Regions from separate parts of the Homo sapiens genome. Here regions 1, 2, 3 and 4 are each reported to be linked to region 5. Evidence: microRNA targets listed by miRTarBase, many of them from high-throughput screens and not tested one by one. Region 5 holds a microRNA gene; each other region holds the end of a gene's coding sequence.

What was found. The annotated mature microRNA hsa-miR-4481 reads GGAGUGGGCUGGUGGUU and lies in region 5 at 1,693-1,709, opposite strand. An mRNA with a match to its seed (bases 2 to 7 or 8) in the 3' UTR can be bound and repressed. Matches are read on the target gene's strand: a 7mer-m8 pairs with bases 2 to 8, a 7mer-A1 pairs with bases 2 to 7 and ends in A, and an 8mer does both.
Region 1: miRTarBase lists LRIT3 as a target of hsa-miR-4481. Seed matches in the 3' UTR shown: 8mer at 1,763-1,770.
Region 2: the mRNA of RALBP1 is a reported target of hsa-miR-4481. Seed matches in the 3' UTR shown: 7mer-m8 at 3,007-3,013.
Region 3: miRTarBase lists CCT7 as a target of hsa-miR-4481. Seed matches in the 3' UTR shown: 7mer-m8 at 1,039-1,045.
Region 4: the mRNA of MALL is a reported target of hsa-miR-4481. Seed matches in the 3' UTR shown: 7mer-A1 at 1,403-1,409.

What each region holds. Positions count from the first base shown.
Region 1 is chr4:109,870,195-109,874,194 of GRCh38, forward strand. It overlaps LRIT3 (leucine rich repeat, Ig-like and transmembrane domains 3), which reads left to right. Exons shown (of 4, transcript NM_198506.5): 4 at 1-2,121. The coding sequence ends at 595. Among named protein-coding and RNA genes, the nearest start is that of LRIT3, 24 kb to the left of the region's middle.
Region 2 is chr18:9,535,026-9,539,498 of GRCh38, reverse strand. RALBP1 (ralA binding protein 1) reads right to left here. Exons shown (of 10, transcript NM_006788.4): 10 at 1,385-3,828. The coding sequence ends at 3,562. Among named protein-coding and RNA genes, the nearest start is that of RALBP1, 62 kb to the right of the region's middle.
Region 3 is chr2:73,251,920-73,256,392 of GRCh38, forward strand. It overlaps CCT7 (chaperonin containing TCP1 subunit 7), which reads left to right. Exons shown (of 12, transcript NM_006429.4): 12 at 721-1,086. The coding sequence ends at 942. FBXO41 (F-box protein 41) reads right to left here. Exons shown (of 13, transcript NM_001371389.2): 13 at 2,771-4,473. Among named protein-coding and RNA genes, the nearest start is that of CCT7, 20 kb to the left of the region's middle.
Region 4 is chr2:110,082,144-110,086,616 of GRCh38, reverse strand. It overlaps MALL (mal, T cell differentiation protein like), which reads left to right. Exons shown (of 4, transcript NM_005434.5): 4 at 860-2,747. The coding sequence ends at 922. It overlaps MIR4436B1 (microRNA 4436b-1), which reads left to right and starts at 94; the gene lies at 94-184.
Region 5 is chr10:12,651,489-12,655,905 of GRCh38, forward strand. MIR4481 (microRNA 4481) reads right to left here and starts at 1,709; the gene lies at 1,650-1,709. The region is part of intron 2 of CAMK1D (calcium/calmodulin dependent protein kinase ID); the gene reads left to right.

The sequences.
Region 1 (4,000 bases), not on the chromosome of region 5:
GACAAATGCCGCAATAGAAAACCTCAGGGTGGTCAGTGAGACTAAAGAGAGTGTGACATTGACGTGGAATATGATCAACACCACACATAACTCTGCAGTGACTGTGTTGTATTCCAAGTATGGTGGGAAGGACCTGCTGCTGTTGAATGCAGACTCCAGCAAGAACCAAGTAACCATAGATGGCTTGGAACCCGGTGGGCAATACATGGCCTGTGTCTGTCCAAAAGGAGTGCCTCCCCAGAAAGACCAATGCATCACCTTTTCTACTGAAAGAGTTGAAGGAGATGATTCTCAATGGTCTCTCCTTCTCGTGGTGACCAGTACTGCCTGTGTTGTTATCTTACCATTGATTTGTTTCTTGTTGTACAAAGTTTGCAAACTGCAATGTAAATCAGAACCTTTTTGGGAAGATGATTTGGCAAAGGAGACTTATATCCAATTTGAGACCCTGTTTCCCAGGTCTCAAAGTGTAGGTGAGCTCTGGACACGAAGCCACAGGGATGACTCAGAGAAATTGCTGCTTTGTTCTAGGTCAAGTGTGGAATCTCAGGTGACTTTTAAAAGTGAAGGTTCCAGACCAGAGTATTATTGCTAAGGTTCTGCAGCTCAGGTGCATGTGAGCTACAAAACTAGCATCTAAGGGTATAATTGACCCTAGGTTTGGATGACTTTTGGACAGACTTTCACATTGTACATGAAAATCACAAATGGAATGCTTTTAAGTATGTTTAAAAAATACCATGAGACCTCTGAACTGAAAAGACAAATAATGTTGATTTTTTTTCTTGTGTGGAAAAGGTCTACAGAAATAATTTTTAGAGTGGTGCTTAATAAATTATTAATACTTTTTAGGGTAATGTTTTAGTTCTTAAAAATAAGTTCATGTGAAAGTAGCAAGTGAACTCTGTATTTAAAAATATAGTTTTTTGAGTCATGAGGAAACATTAGCAAAACCAGCTAAGCCTTGATGTTTATTCATGTTCGAAGTGCATTATAGCATTTGCTGTGGATGTTTTCTGACATTGCCTAATGGAGAGCGTGGGATCATAAAGGATTTTGTGTTCACTAAGGTTAAATCTAACTCACGGGAGAGAGAGGGCTCTGTCTCTTGGTACCATTATGCATTGTGATACTATAGAGTTGTGTTCATATTTCTTGTAAGAAAAATTTTTGCTTTTCTTTAGAAATATAGGTATTAGCAAAAGTAAGTATACAAAGAGGATTATGACAAATAGACCATTTCTTTAAAAATGGTAACTGTTGCATTTAAACACATCGACTGACAGATTATATGGATATTTAAAAATAACTTTAAATCAATCTTTTAATATTTTGCTGTTTGCTCTTATGTTCTCCCTTCTTTCTTCCTTCCTTGTCTTCCCTCCCTTTCCTTCCTTCATTCTTTCTTTCTTCTGCTCTGTCAGAAGATATACAAGTAGCCAAAGCATCACGAGCCAAGCTGTTTGTCTTTTGCCATATTGTCTTTTGATTCTCTTGATAAAGAGAAAGCTTTTGAAATTACTTACTGCCCTTTGAAAGTCTGTTTTACAACCCCAAAGGATATTTTAGGACTTTAAAAGGGAAGCTTCAGTGGATTCATTTGGTTAGATTCTTTTCCTAGGTTAAAAACATCGGGGAACTTAAATACATAGGAAAGGAGTTCACAAATAAAATTTAGTTTTTTTAGAAAGAGAATATTTTAATAACTGTAGTATACTACAAGAAACATCTCATGGCTTTAAGATTAACGATAGCGATAAGGCCCACTCAAGCATCTCACAGTGGTGATATTACATGTCACTTAGCAGGATGCAACCTGGCCTAGGGATTTCCAGAAGACAAGGCCACCTCAGCACAGATGCAACTTTCATAAATTTTAGAACAAAGCCTAACCTTACTAGATTAAACTTGCTCTATGAAAGAAACACTTGGTAATTGACCCAGACTGAATACATGTATAAGAAATGGGAAAGATCTCCCAAACTCTGAGAACGGTCCTCAAATAGAAGCTCTCCTAGTCAGTTGGTCATCTGACCTCTGACTATATCCGGCCTATGACACCAGCCAGCTCCTGCTTTCTGTCTTGTAAGAGCACTGCTGGAATAAACTACTTGAGCATTAGATGGTGTCTAAGACTCATCTTTGATGACAGGGATAAATCACCCTTGTGAAGCTGGCTAGCTGGGACCACCCAAAACCTCAGAACACAACTAGCAGTGAGGATGAAATTTGAGTAAGCCAATGAGTGATGACACCCATTTCTACAGGAGGATCAAGGGAGAGTGGCCAGGGCCTGGCTCTGATCGAGAGATTGGGTGAGGTCTGAGGAACACTCTACAGTGGGTCTGGCAGTTTTTGTTCTGTTTTCACATGTGTTGCTGCCTTCTATCTTTACTTTGTGCCTCTGTTTTGGAGGTCACCACCAGGTAAAATTTGCCAAAATTACTTTTAAGACCACTCTGGTCCCACAGGAAGGTGGGCTTCTAGGAGGAGGGTGGTAGGAATGCTGTAGGCTGGGGGACACCCTGGGCTTGAAGAGCCAACCACCAGCTGGTATGTTTCTAGCCTCAGCTGTGGGAGAGGAGCTCCTCGTCCCCAAAGGTCCTGGCATCATGACCCCATAGACCAAGAAGGCTCAAGTACATCTTCTCCACAGAAAGCTTATCTGTTGTCTGCCAACTGGGGAAAGAGACTTCTCCAACATACCCCGGTCTAATGCCGTTAGCAAAGTCACCAAATCACCAACGGGCATGTTGCTGCCATCCCTGTTCCTCTGCATGCTCCCAGTGAGACAGTGCGGCTTCTCCAGGGCTTTACCACCCCCTACAATGCCTGCTGGGTGCTGCCAGCAGCAGCCCATGAGCAGCACATCCAAATCATAGGGGCTCACCTCAGAGTTGCCACTCTGCACCTGGCTGACCTGGAGGCCTGTGAGCTGTGATCATCCTGAGTGCACCAGATTACCCCCAGCAGCACCACAGGCATTGCCAGTCACCACCTGGACACAGTTAAGAAAGCAGCTGCCACCTCCGCAAACAGCGAGGGTGAGGAAGAACTAATCTCGGATCCCAAAGCAAGCACTCTGTCTAGCAGGACTCGGTTAGTAACTGTCAGAGCTGGTTGTTACAAAGTGAGGTTCTTCCTTGCCTTGGCTCCCTTTGGCACACTCACTTCCTTTTCCACTTCTCTGCCATGCTGTGACATGGCAGAGGCCTCACTGGAAGCTGACCAGATATAGTGGGCAGATCTTTGACTCCTAGGCCTCCAGAATTGTAAGCCAAAGTAAACCTCTCTTCTTTATAAATTACTCAGTGTCCTGTTCTGGTGACTCTCCCTTATGCCTGTCTATTCTGTTATGACCACAGAAAACAGACTAAGAAAATTCTTATGGATAGAAGATGCATTCTTACCTTAAATCTTTAGAAACCTATGAGGGTTTCTTACGCTTCATAGAAGCATATGAGGGTTTTTTGTTTTTCTGTTTTTTACCTTATTAAGTCAGGAACTTGCACCTTTTCACGTAAAGGAAGCACTTTACAGCTTCTCTTTGGCATATCCAAGTTGCCTGCGTCACTATTCTTGTGCTTTGGGACCACTGTCAAGTAAAATAAGGGTTACTGGAATGCAAGCACCGTGATACCACGACAGTCCATCTGATAACCACGGCGGCTTCTAAGTGACTGATGGGCAGGGAGTGCATGGTGTGGATCCTCCAGACAAAGTGATGACTTATGTCCTGGGTGGGACGGAGCAGGATGGCAAAATATTTCATCAGACAACTCACAGCCACACCTCCTGGAAACACTCAAGAGCCCTACTTGCATTTGGCAGCCATCTGAAACGGACAAAACCTGAAACTCTAGCTTGACTGGACCACCTCCAAGATCAACTTAAAATTTATGAATTGTTTATTTGTAGATTTTCCATTAAAAATTTTCGGACTGTGGTTGAAGTTGGGTATCTGAAAACGTGGAAAACAAAACCTCAAATAAGGGGGTAC
Region 2 (4,473 bases), not on the chromosome of region 5:
TAACATGATGACTAAGTCACGGATCATGTCCTGTAGGGAAAATGAATTGGAGTATGACGCCAAAAGCCCTATGCCAGGTACTTACTAGCCATTATTTATCTAAGCAGCCTTTGGAAATCAAGATTATCTCCACCATTTTGCCAATGAAAAAACTGAAGTTCAACAAGACTGCTTTTGAAGGTTATGAAGAAAACCCAGACTTTCCTGCCTACACTGGGTGCGGTGGCTCAAGCCTATAATCCCAGCACTTTGGGAGGCCGAGGTGGGTGGATTGCCTGAGCTCAGGAGTTCAAGACCAGCCTGAGCAATACGGTAAAACCCCGTCTCTACTAAAATACAAAAAATTAGCCAGGCATGGTAGTGGTGTGCACCTGTAGTCCCAGCTACTTGGGAGGCTGAGGCAGGAGAATTGCTTGAACTGGGAGGCAGAGGTTGCAGTGAGCTGAGATCACACCACTGCACTCCAACCTGGGCAACAGAGTGAGACTCTGTCTCCAAAAACAAACAAATAAAAAAAGCCTTTCCTGCCTAAAGTCCACGTTCCTTCCAGTACCCGCACTGTTTGTCTAGAAGCCAGTTTCTAGCACGAGACCCGGGAACAGCTCAGCACGATGTCCGGTCACAGCACTTGACACTTGAGCTAGGCGGTGGGAGCAGAGGTCGGATGTCCGAGATCTGCTGGGGCTGAACTGAACACCTGTTGAATCATGCTTGTCTAGTAACAGCAAAGTCACCAGAATGCAGAGAATGAGCATCCATCACTTTGCAGGTTCGGAGGACCCGGCATGTGACGGGCAGCAGTACTCTTCCTGCTCTGCAAAAGAGCCCCTACATGTGGCATTTAAGGGCTTTCTGCCCCCTCCTCTGCCCAGGCTTGCTATCACGTCTCCTGGGTCTCCTGGGATCTAGTCTAGAACATTCCAGGGGGCACTGCCCACCTTCCCTAAAAGCTGTGGGATCTTATGCTGAAGCCTCTGCCTGCTAATTGACTCCGGCTTTTCCTTCTATCCCTCATGAGAACCATGGGCCAGGGCTGAGGCTGAACACATGGAATTGGGCACGGGTCCCCATCGAGAGCTCCAGAAAGCCCAGGCTGCATCTTGCTCAGCCTGGCTGGACGCAGAAGGTGTGTTTGTTCTTAAGATATCCTAATACATAACAAGCAATGTGCTCTTCACAGAAACAGCTGCAGTGAAAAAAAAAAAAGATCACACAGCACTAGAGCCCATCTTGGGAGGTGACCTCAGGTCTCACACCTCAGTATCTCCAGATCCCCAATGCTAAATGTACCCCATCAGGGCGTTTGAGACTTTCCATCAAGGAGAATTTAGCTATATAAATTTAACATTATAGATTTAACTACACAAAACAGAGAAGTCAGCTGTTTGTCTAAGCTTTCAATGACAGATATTTTAATTGTGGAATTTTTAAAGCAAACAAAGCAATGGAAACTTCATTTTTATTCTAGACCAGTCTATCCCAGACATGCTGATTATGGTTGGCTGTGCTGAGTCCTCATTTACCGTATGAAATGCAAATGTCTGTCAATTGCAATGCCTGGGGCCAAGCCAGGCCAGTGGACTTGTGTGCAGTTCCCACCGGAGCCAGGAGCTGCTCAGACAGCAGACCCAGCCCAGTCCACTGGGTTTTGCAAACACAGGCTCCCTCTGCAGCAGCATGGGCTTGTGGAAGGGAGGCATGCCGCCGCCAGCATGCATGCCAGGGGTCCGGGGTTCTCCCCGTGTCTGCAGAGGTGAGGGGTACAAAGTGAGCTGGAAACAAAACACTGTGTTCCCCCTTGGCCTTGAAGAAGTGCCTCAACCAACTCCTCGCCAGCTGCAGAGTACTCAATCTCCTCACAGAAAGAATGTGTACAAAAAAACTAGAAGCTTTTCTTTTTCCCAAATGGCTGTTGAATTTATTTGCTTGATCAATAATGGTCCTGGCAAAAATTAGTTAACCAATGCTGAGACATTTGTAATGAAATACTAATTTTAAAAATCCATGACACCTTGATAGAAATTAGAGTTTACACAAACAAAAAAGGAACCTTCGATATTGCCAGCAGCTATAAAGTGAACGTACTGAGACCGACAGGACAGCAAGAAGGCATTTGCACATTTATATCTGACACCCGACCATACTTTCAGTCACCAGAATATCTTCTCTCCAGATTTAAAAAAATAGTATGCTGATTTCTATAACAAAGCTTTTTTTCGTACAAAAATCAAATAATGGCCAACGAGTCACAACAGTGCAATAGGTAGAGGATTAAAAACTGCATCAAACAGGTGCTGAAAATAAATACTACCTAGGAGAAGGAGGTGAGAGCCCTCGTGTGGGGTTTGTTTTCGACCCCTTGAGTGTGTGTGGGGTTTGTCTTCCGAGCCACGAGCCTGGCCTGTCTCGCGGTGCTGTTCACTCTGACAGAGTGCGCCTGCAGCACGTTGCCTCCAGGGCCCAGCCTCCCAGAAGCCTCAGAGCATCAGAGCATCCGTCTCATCGGATGGACCAGAAACAAGAAAATGGGGTGGGGTGAATCACAGCTATCATTCAAAGGAAAGGAATTTTTTTCTATTGCTCAATCTTGTCAATTGGGAGTCCACCAGTAGGTTCACTGAGATGATATGGATAATTTCAAACTTTTGTTTAAGAGCATATATATGGCTTATTCAGGCAAGGAGACGTGTACATTCTAGCCCAAGCAAGCAATCGGAGTCATTCTGTTTTTAAGGAAGGTCAGTCGTTTAAAAGATTTCTGGTTTGAACAACATCCTCTGTGGATGCACCAGGCCAAGGTGACTACCTTTGACCAACCCAGTGAGAAGGCCTTTGCTGGTCCCCGCAGTGAGGAACTGGCAGGAACGGGCAGCCTCCTCCCCGCTGGACTGCACTGCCGGGGGCCGGTGGGCAGGCTCCACAGGCAGCCCCTGTCTGTGGCCAGACAGGCCGTCCTGGTGACTCGGGCTTATAGACTGTGGTTTAGAACTGCAGAAGGAGAGAGGAGAGTGGGCCAGGGAACACCCACCAGGCGCTGCTCTGACCAGTCAGAGAACGTGAGGCAGCTCCCCCATAGGGATCTGCACCGAGAAGGTGTGGAAGGCACAAGCAAGAGTGACGGTACCAGAGATCCCAGAGGGCGTGGCTCGCGGCGGCCACAGCAGGCGCAGCGCTGACCTGGGGTGGTTCCCCCCTTGAATGAGAAAGAGATCCTGATTCTGCTGTGATAAAAAAGCAAAGAAAGACGGTTTTTGGTTTAAAAAGAAGCCACTCAAGGGTTAAAATAGTTATTTTAAGTTAACAAAGAAAATTAATCTTCAAATAAGCTGACACTATCTGGAAAACTCATCTGTCCCTAAAGCCCACAATGCGTCCACTGCTTCGTCCTCCCATGGAACCTGAGCCTGACGTGAAGGAGTCAGACGTGTGACAGAGGAAGAGTCTGAGAAGAGAAGACACCTTTACAGAATGTACAGCGAGAGAGCCGGCCTGGCCCCCGGGTTACAGTAAGATGCACGGGTCCTTTCAGTCTCACGGACTCCAGACGGCCACGCAGGCTGCTCAGATGGACGTCTCCTTCCTATCCCTGCTGGGCGATGGCTTTGCCGGCTCCTTGCCTGCCTTTGGCTGCTCTTTAGCTGCTTTTGGCTCAAGGACGCCGTCTCTGGGCGGCTGGACGGCACCCCCGCGCCACTCAGGCTCCTCGTCCTCCTGCGCCTGCTGCTCGGCCTTGGCTCGCTGCATCTGGAGCAGCCGCAGCTGCACGCGCAGCTCGATGATGGCCTCGCGCTCCTCATGAATTGCTTGATTCAAATGATTGTTCTTTATCTTGGGGAATGACAGAAAGGGCAGTTATCACTTAAGGAAGTCAGAGGACGATTTCTCAGGAGCAGAGCGCGGTTAGCAAGGGCATCCTACAGAGGAATCTGGTTTTGTTTAAGTCAATGGGTTGTGAAACAGAAGACAAACACAGCAGGAATGCACAGTGCACAGTGAGCCACGTGACTCCTGAGAATGTGAGGCTGGAAACCCTGCTCCTGGTTACTAGAGAGAAACACATCCATGTGCCAACAGAAACCGTTATTTTAATAATTCAGTATCCTAGTGTTTAAAATAGACAACTTATAACTTTGAACTGGCTTCTCAACAGCCCTTAAACAAGGAGAAAATAAAAGTAATTTTAGCAGCAATTAGAAAGGGGAGTTAGAGATCAGATAAAAAACTAGATTTGTTTCAAAGGTGAATATCCTTTGTCTTTTGTGAATAGTATTACGGTAATTCTGAAATGTCCTACTCAATCAAACTACAGAAAATTACTATCAATTCTAAATCATCTGGATGTACTCGGCAAAGTTTAGGTCCTGAGGAATAGCAGCGGCCCTGCTGCCGTGGCCTCCACTCTGTGGCAGGTGCCAGCCTCCCCTGCGTGGGTGTGGCATGGACTAGGCTCTGCGAAGGGGGCATAGGTGTAAG
Region 3 (4,473 bases), not on the chromosome of region 5:
TAGTGTGAGACTCCATCTCAAAAAAAAAAAAAGAGTATGATTGCTTCTTATGGTACCACAGGAGGAACCTTGCATCCACCTTCCTGGAAGCACATACTGACCACATGGAGTGGGCTTACTGGTGTGGTGAAGCTCTCCAGAGCCCTACAAGTGTGACCCTGGGCTAGTTACTTCAACCTCTCTGAGAGTTTAATTTCTCCATTTGTTAAATAGATAGAGGTTTGTTAAGTGCTTAGCACCCAGTGAATGACCCTGCTTCTGGCTTGTATTAGGACTTTTGCTTAAAGTCACTTTACCTCTGTGTCTCACTTGCCTCATCTGTAAAATCGGGCTATTTGAAGCAATGAGATGAAAGATGGGATAGTATTTTTGTTATTCCTGTTTATCTTGAGAACTCATTGTTTGATATATATATATATATATATATATATAGTCCTCAGGTGACCTGAGGATGGGGCCGCCCCAAAACACAACAGCTTGCCTGGGAGAAGATCCCAGAGGTCTTGTGTGGTATGTCCAGGGCTAAGGGGAGGAGTTGGCGGGAGTAGGGGTGTTTCCAGGTTCCTGGCATGCTCATAGGAAGATGCAGTATTCTTCAGCGAAATGCCACCAAGTTCAGAGAGTCTGCGGGTTCCTAGCAGTGTCTTTTGGAGTACCAGTTTACAAGAGGAAAGTTGAAAGTAGTTCCATATTACCTCCTTTCTTTTCCTACTCTTTTAGGGGGGTACATGGTATGGAGTAGACATCAACAACGAGGACATTGCTGACAACTTTGAAGCTTTCGTGTGGGAGCCAGCTATGGTGCGGATCAATGCGCTGACAGCAGCCTCTGAGGCTGCGTGCCTGATCGTGTCTGTAGATGAAACCATCAAGAACCCCCGCTCGACTGTGGATGCTCCCACAGCAGCAGGCCGGGGCCGTGGTCGTGGCCGCCCCCACTGAGAGGCACCCCACCCATCACATGGCTGGCTGGCTGCTGGGTGCACTTACCCTCCTTGGCTTGGTTACTTCATTTTACAAGGAAGGGGTAGTAATTGGCCCACTCTCTTCTTACTGGAGGCTATTTAAATAAAATGTAAGACTTCAGATAACTTTGTAAATTATTTTGGCATGGTACTCATAAATGTCTGGCTGTAGCTCAGAATTTTAGCTTTACATGCACTTGTCCAACAGGGAGACAAGAGCATCCTGGGGTGAGCTCCACTAGAGTGGCCCGTCTGGAAGTTTCACTGTGGTTGCATTCTTTGTTCCAGAAGTGGCTGGACAACACGCAGTTGCTTTCTTCTGGCATCATCTTATTTAGCCCTGGCCTAGCCAGACACTGCTCTCAGGGTTTCTCTGGTTTGAGTAAATGGGTTACATTACCTTGTCTGCCCCTTCTATCTCCATATTCTTTTGGTTTAGTCTTTTGTTCCCTCTTACTCAAGACTGTGAGAAGGGTGTTTTAGGGAGGGCTTATGCTCTCTAAACTCTAGTGATCCCTTGGAAGTCTACTAAGGAGACGACTGAAAGCACCCACCTAGTCTTTTCAGTTCAGCCCCCAGTGATCTTGGTCCTTCTGCTTTCTTGTGACCAATGGGAGTTTGGAATGGCTGGCACAGATGAGCTGGAAATCCAGCAGTGTCTAACATCCTCCTGATTTACACTGGTCCTGATAGCTGGCCTGCACCCTGCTGTAGTTGGTCGTTGTTAAAAGCTGGAGGTAAATGATGATGTCATTGTCAGCCATTGAGACTTGCTAGCTAAAACTGGGAAGTGATTTTTAAAAAAAATTCTCTGAACCCAGCCACTCCTGGTTAGATGGACTCTAAAGCACAGAGGATGGCAGGCAGGTCCAGGCTTTGGAGTCTGGCATTCCTCCTAACTTGATGGTCTTTAGGTAGACTAATTTTTCTGAGCCTCTGCTATTCTACCTGTATGACAGGGTAAGAGTAGCTGGCTCAAAGAGTAGTGAGACTTAAATGTTTATTTTTATGTTAGAGACACAGTTTAAGCCTAAAAACACTTATTCTTTTTTCTGATTTTAAATATTTCAGGACCTGAGGAATCAAGTCAGGGGCAGAAGGACATTTTGTAAAATGAGGAAGTCAAGGCCAGGCCATGATGTCAACCTGGTCTCCCGCAGTCAAAGCCTGATTGGCTGGCCAGAGCCTCCTGAGTAGGCAGTCAAGCCAGGGAGGGGCTGGGCAGTGCCTGCTGCCCTGTTGTACTGGTTTTGTCCTTGAAGGTAGTCTCTCCTAGCTGAGAGTCAGAAATGATGTATCTCAAGGCGTTTCCTCTGGATACACACACTGAAAGCAGGGTTGAGCGGTGGCAGGACAGTCACCCTAGGTGGCTTTTCTGCAGTCCTGAGGCAAGTTTTTGTTGTTTCTGAGACAGGGCCTCACTCAGTTAACTAAGCTGGAGTGTGCAGTGGTGTGATCTCAGCTCACTGTAACCTCCACTTCCCTGGCTCGATATCCTCCCACCTCAGCCTCCCAAGGAGCTGGCAATACAGGCACATGCCGAGCTAATTTTTCAGTTTTTCTTGCAGAGACAGGGTTTCACTATGTTGCCCAGACTAGTCTCGAATTCCTGGGCTCAAGTGATTCTCCCGCCCCAGCCTCCCAAAGTGCTAGGATTACAGATATGAGCAACTGTGCCCGCTGGCAAGTCTTGTTATACTTCATTCCCCTGGGTTACCTGCCTCTCTGCACTTGAGCTGCAGAAAGACCATGATAACACAGATGATAAGTGTGGCCACATACCATTTACCTCTCTGGGGCAGATAGACCAGTTTCACCATCTTTTTTATTGGATACAGAGCCATAAATTCTCTGATGCCCATGTGAGTCCTTTTAAATACATACACTCAGGTACATTCAGCAAAGGGCATCTTACGGGTGACATGGAGCAAAGTGCTGGGATGGCGATGCCTGGGTGGGGCAGAGAAGTGTGGCCAGGGAAGGCCCCCTGGGGGCTGGAGGTACAGGCACCACTTCAGAAACAAAAATAAAACCAAAAATTGCTCTCCACCCCTCTGCCTGTGCTTGGGGCTGGGGAAGCTACCCTCTCACTCAGGCCCATTATAGCCTAGCTGTGTAGGAAGGTAGGGCCTAAGGGCCAGTTATGGAGGTTGCCCACCAGTGGTGCCCACTAGAACCAAGCCTGCTGGCATCAGCCACAAAGCAAGCCTGGGTCACCTCAGGCCTCTGCCCTGGATACAAGACCCTTGTCAGGGCAGAGCTGAGGCTGGCAAGCCCAAGGCCAAGCCTCCCTTGGGCCATGCTGGCAGTGGCAGAGGAGGCTTGGCCTCACGGTGGGGAGCCTGCCTGATTGTCAGGGCAGCCTTGGGACTGGCTGAGGTCCCAAGGGTTTGGGGAGGGAGTCGTTGCCTTAGCTGGCCCTGGTATTCTGATCTTTACCCAATCCTAAACCTTATCCTCAGGCAAGGGCTGCAGATGAACACACTTGTCCAGGAATACATACATACACACAATACACAGCAATATATACAGAAATGCAGGCCGGGCACAAGGCTGGGTGAGAAAGCATGGCCACTGGGTTGGAGAGAAGGGCCAGGCCCCCAGGGGAAGGAAGTTACACTCATCAGGGACTGACAGGCTGGGACAGGTCCCATGGGTTCGAGTTAACTTCTCTGGGCATTTGGGCCTTACACCCACTCACCATCTCCTGTTTTTACCCCAAGTCCAACAGGAACTGGGACTTTGGCACCAATAGTCACTCTGGGAAGGCCTCCTTCAACTTAGCGCCTTAGAGGGATTGGGGCCCGGGTGACTCCCCACTGGTGGCCCCAAAGATAAGAGACCAGGAGTGGGGAAATAGGCAGGACCCAAAGGCAAGGGATGGAGCCAAACCTTGGAGTAGCAGGCCTTGGGAAGGAGGACTTTTTTTTGTTTTTCTCTTTTGAGGCAATTCCTGAGGGGCTGGCTCAGACTCGAGTGTCACAGAACCAAGAAAACAGGAGCTGCCTTGATCCTTAGGTGGTCTCTCCTGGCTGGGGAAAGGCTGTGGTGCTGGGCTGGGCAGGCCACCCACTCTTTATTCCTGCAGGGATGCATATAAGTGCACCTTCATTTCCTGCCGGTGCTGTGGGGAAGCAGCCTGAATAAAGCATGAAGTACTTAAGCCAAGTACACCAACCTCCCAGGTAGGTACTGGGGCCAGACTGGATGGCAGGGGGTGGTAGAAACACCAAGTGGCCACCCCCACTGGGCCTCTACACATACCTGGGGCCCCTGGAGCAGGGCTGCTTGCTCTCAGATATTCCTTTCTTGCATCTTACTGGGTATGAGATGTGAAGGGATCCCGTTTGGGTGGGTAAAGATGGATGAAGTGCTTCTAGGGATAGCCAGGCCCTCTGTCCCTGTTCCCATCCTCAGCCCTAGCTGTATGGTCACCAAAAAAATCCATGCATAGAGCCTCCCAGCAAGCAAAAGCTCCCTACTCAGCAGCAGAGCTCATCCCCGAGGA
Region 4 (4,473 bases), not on the chromosome of region 5:
TTGAAGGTGACGGCCCTACCCTGAGAAAAGAGCAGAGCCATCATACAGCTTCAACGTGGGGCAACGGGATTGTGTTCTCCCCATGAGTGAGAAGTGTCCTCACTTGTCCACTTCTGCCTGCCCTGCCCAAATGGTGGAGCAGATTCGAGGGGCAGGGCAGGAAGAAGTGGACAAGTGAGGCCATGAGGAGTCCTGCCGAGGGATGCCGGTGGCTGAGACAAGGGAAAAATGAATGTCCCAAGAGCTAGGCAGGGAAATCAGTAGCCTTTGGGGTGGCTTTGCATATGGCTGGCAAGGGAGGCAGGAGGAGCCAGGGGCCACAGGGGTCAGGCTCAGGGAGTGGGGCGAGAGGAGGACCCTGGGGCCCACTGGGCTTGTCAGGCTTGTGAGGAAACGTCAGGGGCTCAGTGTGAGCCAGGAAGAGCTGGAGGATGTCTGAACATTCACGAGGAGCTGATAAGCAGCCGCTCAGGGCAGAGTTCTGGGCCAGCGAGGGGAGCTGTAGGAGTGTTCAGAACACAGATTTGCTGGAGGTGGGCAGAGGAGAGCGGGCCTCGGGCAGGAGGTCAGCGTGGGATATGGGCCCAGAGCTGTGGTGGAGGTGAGCCTGCTTCACAGCCAGGTGCAGATGAGGTGGAGACTGCAGTCGGGGCAGGACACCAGGACGGCCCCAGGGAGGCCCTGATGGAGAGTTTCCAGAAGAGGGAGTTGTTGGCCAGGGGTTGCTGCCCTCAGGCCACGCAGGAGGCGAGGAGGCAGGGTCATGCGTGGCCTCCTGGGCAGTGGGGCTGAGGGTACCTGAGGGGTGGGCAGGAGCTGGCGCTGCTGTCTCTAACAGTCACTCTCCACCTCCTTCCAGTTCTTCGCCTTCATCGCCACGCTGCTCTACATTCTCCATGCCTTCAGCATCTATTACCACTGATGCACAGGCGCCAGGCCAAGGGGGAAATGCTCTTTGAAAGCTCCAATTATTGGTCCCCAAAAGCAGCTTCCAACGTTTGCCATCTGGATGACAAACGGAAGATCCACTAAAACGTCCACGGGATTAACAGAACGTCCTTGCAGACTGAGCGATGACACCACACTTTGTTTGGACATTTAAATTCACTCTGCTGAATAGGAGGAAGCTTTTCTTTTTCCTGGGAAAACAACTGTCTCTTGGAATTATCTGACCATGAACTTGCTCTTCTAGACAACTCACATCAAAGCCCTCACTCCACTAATGGAGAATCCTAGCCCCACTAATGCCAAGTCTGTTTGGGGATTTTGCCTCAGCTATGGGCTTCCCTAGAGTAGGTCTAGGGGAATACTCAGTCTGATCTTTTTTTTGTTTGTTTTATTTTGTTTTTTTTGAGACGGAGTCTCGCTCTTCCTCCAAGGCTGGAGTGCAGTGACGCGATCTCCACTCACTGCAGGCTCCGCCTCCCGGGTTCCCGCCATTCTCCTGCCTCAGCCTCCCGAGTAGCCGGGACTACAGGCGCCCACCACCGTGCCCGGCTAATTTAGTTGTATTTTTAGTAGAGATGGGGTTTCACCGTATTAGCCAGGATGGTCTCGATCTCCTGACCTCGTGATCCGCCCGCCTCGGCCTCCCAAAGTGCTGGGATTACAGGCGTGAGCCACCGCGCCCGGCCTGATTCTCTTAAAATTGAAGAGGTGCTGCCAAGGCCTTCAGATCTAACGCAGATGCATAGACCTTGTTCCTGGTACTTGTTCAGCCTGTGCTGGGGAGCCGTGGTCCCGAGTTCCCTGGGAGGCTGACAGGGTCAAGCCACCCTGCCCACCACCCTCCCACTTCCCCTCCCCTTTCCTCTCCAGCATTAGGATTCAAGGGAAATTTGCATGAAGCCAATTTTGAGGGTAGACGTGTGGGGAAAATAAATCATTATACAGTAAGACCTGGGGCTTGAGGGGTGGGGAATGGGGAGGGAAGGGCATAGCCTGCTCCTCCATGAGTCTGACATCTCGGAAACTGAGCAGCTGCCGGACGCCTGGGTCAGGAATCCAAGACCCCACCTCTTAAGGACTGGTTCCTCAGAAAGCACCCTCAGGGAAAAAGGTGAAAACATTACATCCGTGGATTCTCCTGCCACAACCGCATTGGAAGAAAAGGCTGCCGCAACATCTCAGCGAGGAGTGAAGGACCCATGTCCCAGGAACCGCGCTGCGCCACCTGCACTCACCCCCCTCACATTCTCTTAAGCACCCGGTGGCCCTCCGAGGCCTGGCGGAATGGTGGTGCCCACGGGGTTGGGCAAGGGCTCACCAGGACCTCAACGGGCAAAGTTGTGCACACTAAAATATCAAATCAAGGTGCTTGGTTTTAAAGTAAATGTTTTTCTAAAGAAAGCTGTGCTCTTCTGTTGACCCAGACGAATAGGGCACAGCCCTGTAACTGCACGTGCCTTCTGTCATTGGGAATGAAATAAATTATTACGAGAAAGGGACTTGTCCTAACTGGTTTGAGGCCTTACAGTTTTGTATCTACATTTTTCCCCTCCTGGGGTTTGCGGGGACAGGGACAGAACTACAGGAGTCATGGGAAAGAAAATTCTGGCTTCACTACTGCTCACTGCTCACTTTCTGATCACTCTGATACTTTTTTTTTTTTTTTTTTTTTTGCAACCTGATACCTTGAAAAGCTTCTATGTGTCTCTCCTTTTGTTGCCTGGCAGCTGTCTAGGATGATCACTGATTACTATTTACTAAGTAGCCACATGCAAATAAAAGTTGTTTGGTAAAAAGGAGCAGTTGGTCGACTTCATCTTGTTAGCATCTGGAACTGGCCATCAGGTACTAGGTGTTGTCAGTAATTTCAAGAAAAGCACCCCTTGGAGCATTTCACAACCTAAGTTCTCTGAGGGTGGGATCCCAGCCCACCCGGCCTTGCTTCTAGAGCAAGAGCGAAGGGAGGTCACATTTGTCTCCAGGGCTTCGGGTTTATAATGTCATTTGTACTTCAGTAAGGACAGTTTGGGTGCAAGTTCCGGAAACCAAACTCATACAGCTTAGGCAAAAATGGGAGTGCACCAGTAGGGGCTGGGAGAGGTGAAGAGGGCTCAGTAGGAGGAGAGCTGACCCCCGCATGGCTCTCTGCTGCACACTGGCCATCGTCTCTTGCCACACTGCAAGACTTGTCCAAGTCTCAACAAACACCGGCCTCCCATCCCACGTGCAGACACTAGAGGCTCAGCCTGGACCCCCAAAGTCCATCCACCCACAGCTGTTGCAGTGCTGCTTTCTGCCTTGAGGGGCAGCCCTCCTCTCAGCGTAGGGGTCTCCCCAGGCTCTTGTCTTCTGGAGGGAACACCCCGAGGCTCTTGGCAGGCTTCTCAGAGGCCCCAGCAGGAGTGGGCTATCAGGGAACCTGCCCCGATAGTCATGTAGGTTCTTTTCTATTTTTCCTAAGTGTCGGCTGGCTTGAGAAATAAAGGGACAGAGTACAAAAGAAAAATTTTAAAGCTGGGCATCCAGGGGAGACACCACATGTCAGTAGGTTCCGTGATGCCCCACAAGCCGTAAAACCAGCAAGTTTTTATTAGGGAGTTTCAAAAGGGGAGGGAGTGTGCGAATAGGTGTGGGTCACAGAGATCACGTGCTTCACAAGGTAAATAGAATATCAGAAGGCAAATGGAGGCAGGGCGAGATCACAGGACCACAGGATGGAGGCAAAATTAAAATTGCTAATGAGGTTTCGGGCACCATTGTCATTGATAACATCTTATCAGGAGACAGGGTTTTGAGAGCAACCGGTCTGACCAAAATTTATTAGGCAGGAATTTCCTCTTCCTAATAAGCCTGGGAGCGCTGTGGGAGACTGGAGTCTATTTCACCCCTACAGCCTCGACCATAGAAGACAGCCACGCCCAGGGGGGCCTTCTATAGACCTACCCCCCAGGTGCGTATTCTCTTTCCCAGGGATGTTCCTTACTGAGAAAAAGAATTCAGCGATATTTCTCCCATTTGCTTTTGAAAGAAAAGAAATATGGCTCTGTTCTGCCTGGCTCACCAGTGGTCAGAGTTTAAGGTTATCTCTCTTGTTCCCTAAACATTGCTGTTATCCTGTTCTTTTTTCAAGGTGCCCAGATTTCATATTGTTCAAACACACATGCTCTACAATTTGTGCAGTTAACGAAATTATGACACGGTCCTGAGGCGACATACGTCCTCCTCGGTTTATGAGATGACAGGATTAAGAGATTAAAGTAAAGACAGGCATAGGAAATCACAAGGGTGTTGATTGGGGAAGTGGTAAGTGTCCATGAAATCTTCACAATTTATGTTTAGAGATTGCAGTAAAGACAGGCATAAGAAATTATAAAAGTATTAATTTGGGGAACTAATAAATGTCCATGAAATCTTCACAATCCACGTTCTGCCATGGCTTCAGCTGGTCCCTCCATTTGGGGTCCCTGACTTCCCATAACAGTGGGCTCTGGCGTGAGCTTCACAGGCTTTCTCCTTTCCAGGTTC
Region 5 (4,417 bases):
TCAGGAGATCCTCCCACCTTAGCCTCCTGGGTAGCTGGGACCACAGGCACGTGCCACCACACCCAGCTAATTTTTGTATTTTTTTTTTCTTTTTGGAGAGACGGGATTTCACCGTGTTGTCCAGGCTGGTCTCAAACTCCTGGGTTCAAGTGATCCTCCCGCCTTGGCCTCGCAAAGTACTGGGATTACAGGCGTGAGCCATACTGCCTGGACAACTTCTTTTTTGTTTTTAAAGAAACTGTAAAGAGGCCAAAGATTTAGGACAAAGGAGCTCATTACCATCTTTGGAAATAACTTTTTTTTTTTTTGAGACGGAGTCCCGTTCTGTCGCCCAGGCTGGAGTGCAGTGGCGCGATCTCGGCTCACTGCAAGCCACCTGCCCTGGGTTCACGCCATTCTCCTGCCTCAGCCTCCCAAGTAGCTGGGACTACAGGTGCCCGCCACCACGCCCCGCTAATTTTTTTGTATTTTCAGTAGAGATGGGGTTTCACTGTGTTAGCCAGGATGGCCTCTATCTCCTGACCTCGTGATCTGCCCGCCTCGGCCTCCCAAAGTGCTGGGATTACAGGCGTGACCACCGCGCCCGGCCGGAAATAACTTTTTGAGGGAAGATCTTCTCTTTGTATTTGAAAATGTGTCAGTAATAGTCTTTACTAGTTGGAGTGGGGAAGAAAGCTTTTAATTTCACTTTTGAATTGTTGATTACACTGGTTCCCTCCACTCCCTTGCCCCCATCTTTATTCTGTTTTTTGTTTGTTTATTTTTCTTCACTTTTTAGTAGGAGAGTCTTCTTTAAAAACAAATTCCCTAGGGCTGGGTGCTGTGGCTCACGCCTGTAATCCCAGCACTTTGGGAGGCAGAGATGGGCGGATCACAAGGTCAGGAGATCAAGACCATCCTGGCTAACACGGTGAAACCCCGTCACTACTAAAAATACAAAAAAAAAAAAAAAAGCCGGGCGTGGTGGCGGGCGCCTGTAGTCCCAGCTACTTGGGAGGCTGAGGCAGGGGAATGGTGTGACCCCACGAGGCGGAGCTTGCAGTGAGCAGAGAGTGCACCACTGCACTCCAGCCTGGGCGACAGAGCGAGACTCCATCTCGAAAAAAAAAAGAAAGAAAGAAAACTAGGTGAATAGTAACGAGTTTATTAGCCACAACCTATTTGTAATGTCATTCCTGAGAATTTGCAAATAGCCCTGGAGGTTACACTAGGAAGTTTCTTGAGTTGACATCCTTGATCATAGTCTTTTATTAGCAGGATATAATAGAACTATAAGCTCAGACCACCTTAGCATTTAACAATGATCTATCATAAAACTGCAATTTGGAGAGGTGGATGTGTATTACACACCCCTCGTTTAAAAAACATCAACAAAGCAAAACATGCTGCTCTTTTTAATTGTGACTCATCTCAGTTATGAAGAAATTAATTCTTAAGAAAGAATACGGTGTCTTAGTTCGTTTTCTATAACTTATAACAAAATAGCTGAAACTGGGTAGTTTATAAAGAACCTTTTCTTTATTTCTTACAGTTGTGGAGGCTGGGAAGTCCAAGGTGGAGGGGCTGCATCTAGTGAGAACCTTCTTGCTGTGGGGAACTCTTTCTGCAGAGTCCTGAGGCATTGTGGGGCATCACATGGCTGGGGGGCTGAGCGTGCTCATGTGCTAGCTTAGGTCTCCCTTCCTCTTAAAAAACCACCAGCCCACTCCTGTGATGACCCATTAATCCACAAATGGGTTAATCTATTCATAAGGGCAGAACCCTTGTGATTCAGTCACCTCTAAAAGGCCCCACCTCACAATACTGCCACATTAGGGATTGCATTTCAGTGTGAGTTTTGGAGGAAACAAATATTCATACCATAGCACAGAGTTGTCCTTATTATGCACACTGATAGAGATGATCAGAAAATAAGAAATTATGTTTAAAAACACACATACAATGAACCACAAACACCCTAATTCATTCCCAACATATGAGTGCTTGAAAGATGTTTTCTTCCATTGGAATGTGCCTGGTTATCTGAAGCCTGAGTGTGACCTGAGCCAACCATGTGACAACGTTAATTACTGATGTGCAAAAATTAAAGAACACTCAATTCTGCACCATCATCTCTGAATGTGGGCACTTTCCCAGAATGATGAGGAACATTATACAGTATGAGTTCAATCCCCCTAAGTCTGACAGTGAACTGAAATTAGATGGTTGTTCAAAACAGACTTCCCTCTCTGTTTTTCATCTTACTATTTTCATCTCATCTTTTTCTTTTACAATTGGCTTCCCACTTTCTAAATAAATGTTGCCATACCCCAGTAGCTTTAGTGCAATGCCTAGGATCATTTTGGCCTGTGTTCCTGATGCTTCATTATCTCGTTTGAATGAAAGAGCAGCACTGGGTCCTCCAATTTCAGTAGGTGCTATTCAGGGCACCTGTTGGCTTGACATGGTCATGGGTTTGAGTTGTGAAATATGGACCCTTCCATGTGGGTATCAGCACAGAGAAAGCACAGGACATTAGTGGTAGGAAAGAAAAAAGAAACAATACCTTTCCCCTAGATTCCAGTGCATTATTTTGTTTCCCTTCCACTTACTTATCCTCATATAAATGCAAGTGTTCAGAGCTAGAAACCTCAAAGATGCTTCCTGAATTCAAGCCCAGCGTCTTCAATCTGGGGCACAGAGTATGTGAAGGAAGCTGCAGGATACACCCCAGCAGTTCTGTGTCATTAACAGTATTTCATACAGGAATAGCTTCTAAATTCACCTTGTAAGCATCCACAGTGAATCTGAAACAAGCTTTCTGAGATTTCCCTTTCTAAGGTGATTTGGTGTATGTGGGTTCTCACATCAGTGAAGCTAGGAAATCCAAGCTACAAGAGTTAATCTCTGTTTCAAGGCGGGTAAACACCTTAATGTTTTCTGAGACTCCTGGTGCTAATTTTCATGTTTAAAATGCCCACAGAAATATATATTACCCTTTGACAAAAAGTTACCAAAAGATTCAAAGAAGGAAATGACAGTATTCCTTTAAATGTGTTAGTGTTTCAAAGTCTTGCTAAGAAATAGTAGAAGAAGTATTACTAATACTACTTGCTAAGAAATATTAGTTGCTAATACTATTATACTTGCTAAGAAATGTTATTTTTTTCATATTCTTATCCTGAGAGGAGTAATGGGTTGGCCATGTAGCCTTAAATCTTTATCCTTAGGACACCCTGGATCTTAACCTTTAAAAATCAGACTTATTATCAAATAAATGTATTCAGCCTAGATAAATTTAAAATGGGCACGGAAGCCACGAAGTTATCAGCTCTGAAGTATCTAAAGTTGAACCCTTTCCCATGACCTAAGATTCTCAGTAATTTAGTAATAAATGACTTACCAGTGGTTCTCAAACTTGGCTGCACGTTTGAATCACTGGAGAAACTATAAAGAACTTGTTACGCCTAGGCCACGCCGCAGGCCAATCAAATCATAATCTCCAAAAATGTTCCAGTTATTAGTACATTTGGAACTCCTCAGATAATTCTAGCACGTATCTGAGCTTGAGACCCATTGGATTAGGCCGTTCCTGCATTGCTATACAGAAATACCTGAGCCTGGGTAATTTATAGGAAAAGAGGTTTAATTGGCTCACAGTTCTGCAGGCTGTACAGGAAGCATAGTGCTGGCATCTGCTCGGCTTTTAGGGAGACCTCAGGAAACTTACACTCATGATGGAAGGCAAAGGGGGAGCAGGCATGTCACATGGTGAAAGCAGGATCGAGAGAGAGTGGGAGGGGGAGGTGCCACACAAGAAGCCACTGTCGCAAAGACAGCACCAAGCCATGAGGGATCCACCCCCATGACTTGAACACTGCCCTCTAGACCCCATGTTCAAGCATTGAGGATTGAAATTCAAGATGAGATTTGGGCAAGAAAAACTATCCAAACTGTATCACCCATTCACTGGTAACTTCTCATGGATGGTAACAGAAATAGGAAAGAAATACACAGTCAAATCTTAGAACCTTTTTTCATTCTGGTGTGTAGCTTTGGAATGTCTGGAGTCTGTAAGACTTTTGGAAGGTGAGAATTAATTGTTCATTCATTCATTCATTCTTCCATAAACATTCCTTGAGTGTTGATATGTGCTGGATTTTTCACACTGGATTTTTCACACTGAACTGGACCTAACTTATTTCTCCTTTGGTCGAAAGACCGCCAGGCCTCAGCTGGACCTCTAGAGCCATTCTAGACAAGAGCAAATCACTTGGGCGTTTCTGTATTAGTCCAGGCATTGTGGATGCTGATGTGGGAGAAGGAAAAGTGGGTCTTTTCTGTGTAAACAACTTCATGTCTCAAGAAAATTCTGTTCTGTGTCCAGCTGACAAACTTGTCTGTGCAGATAAAGAACCTATTGATGCACAAGTTGTCA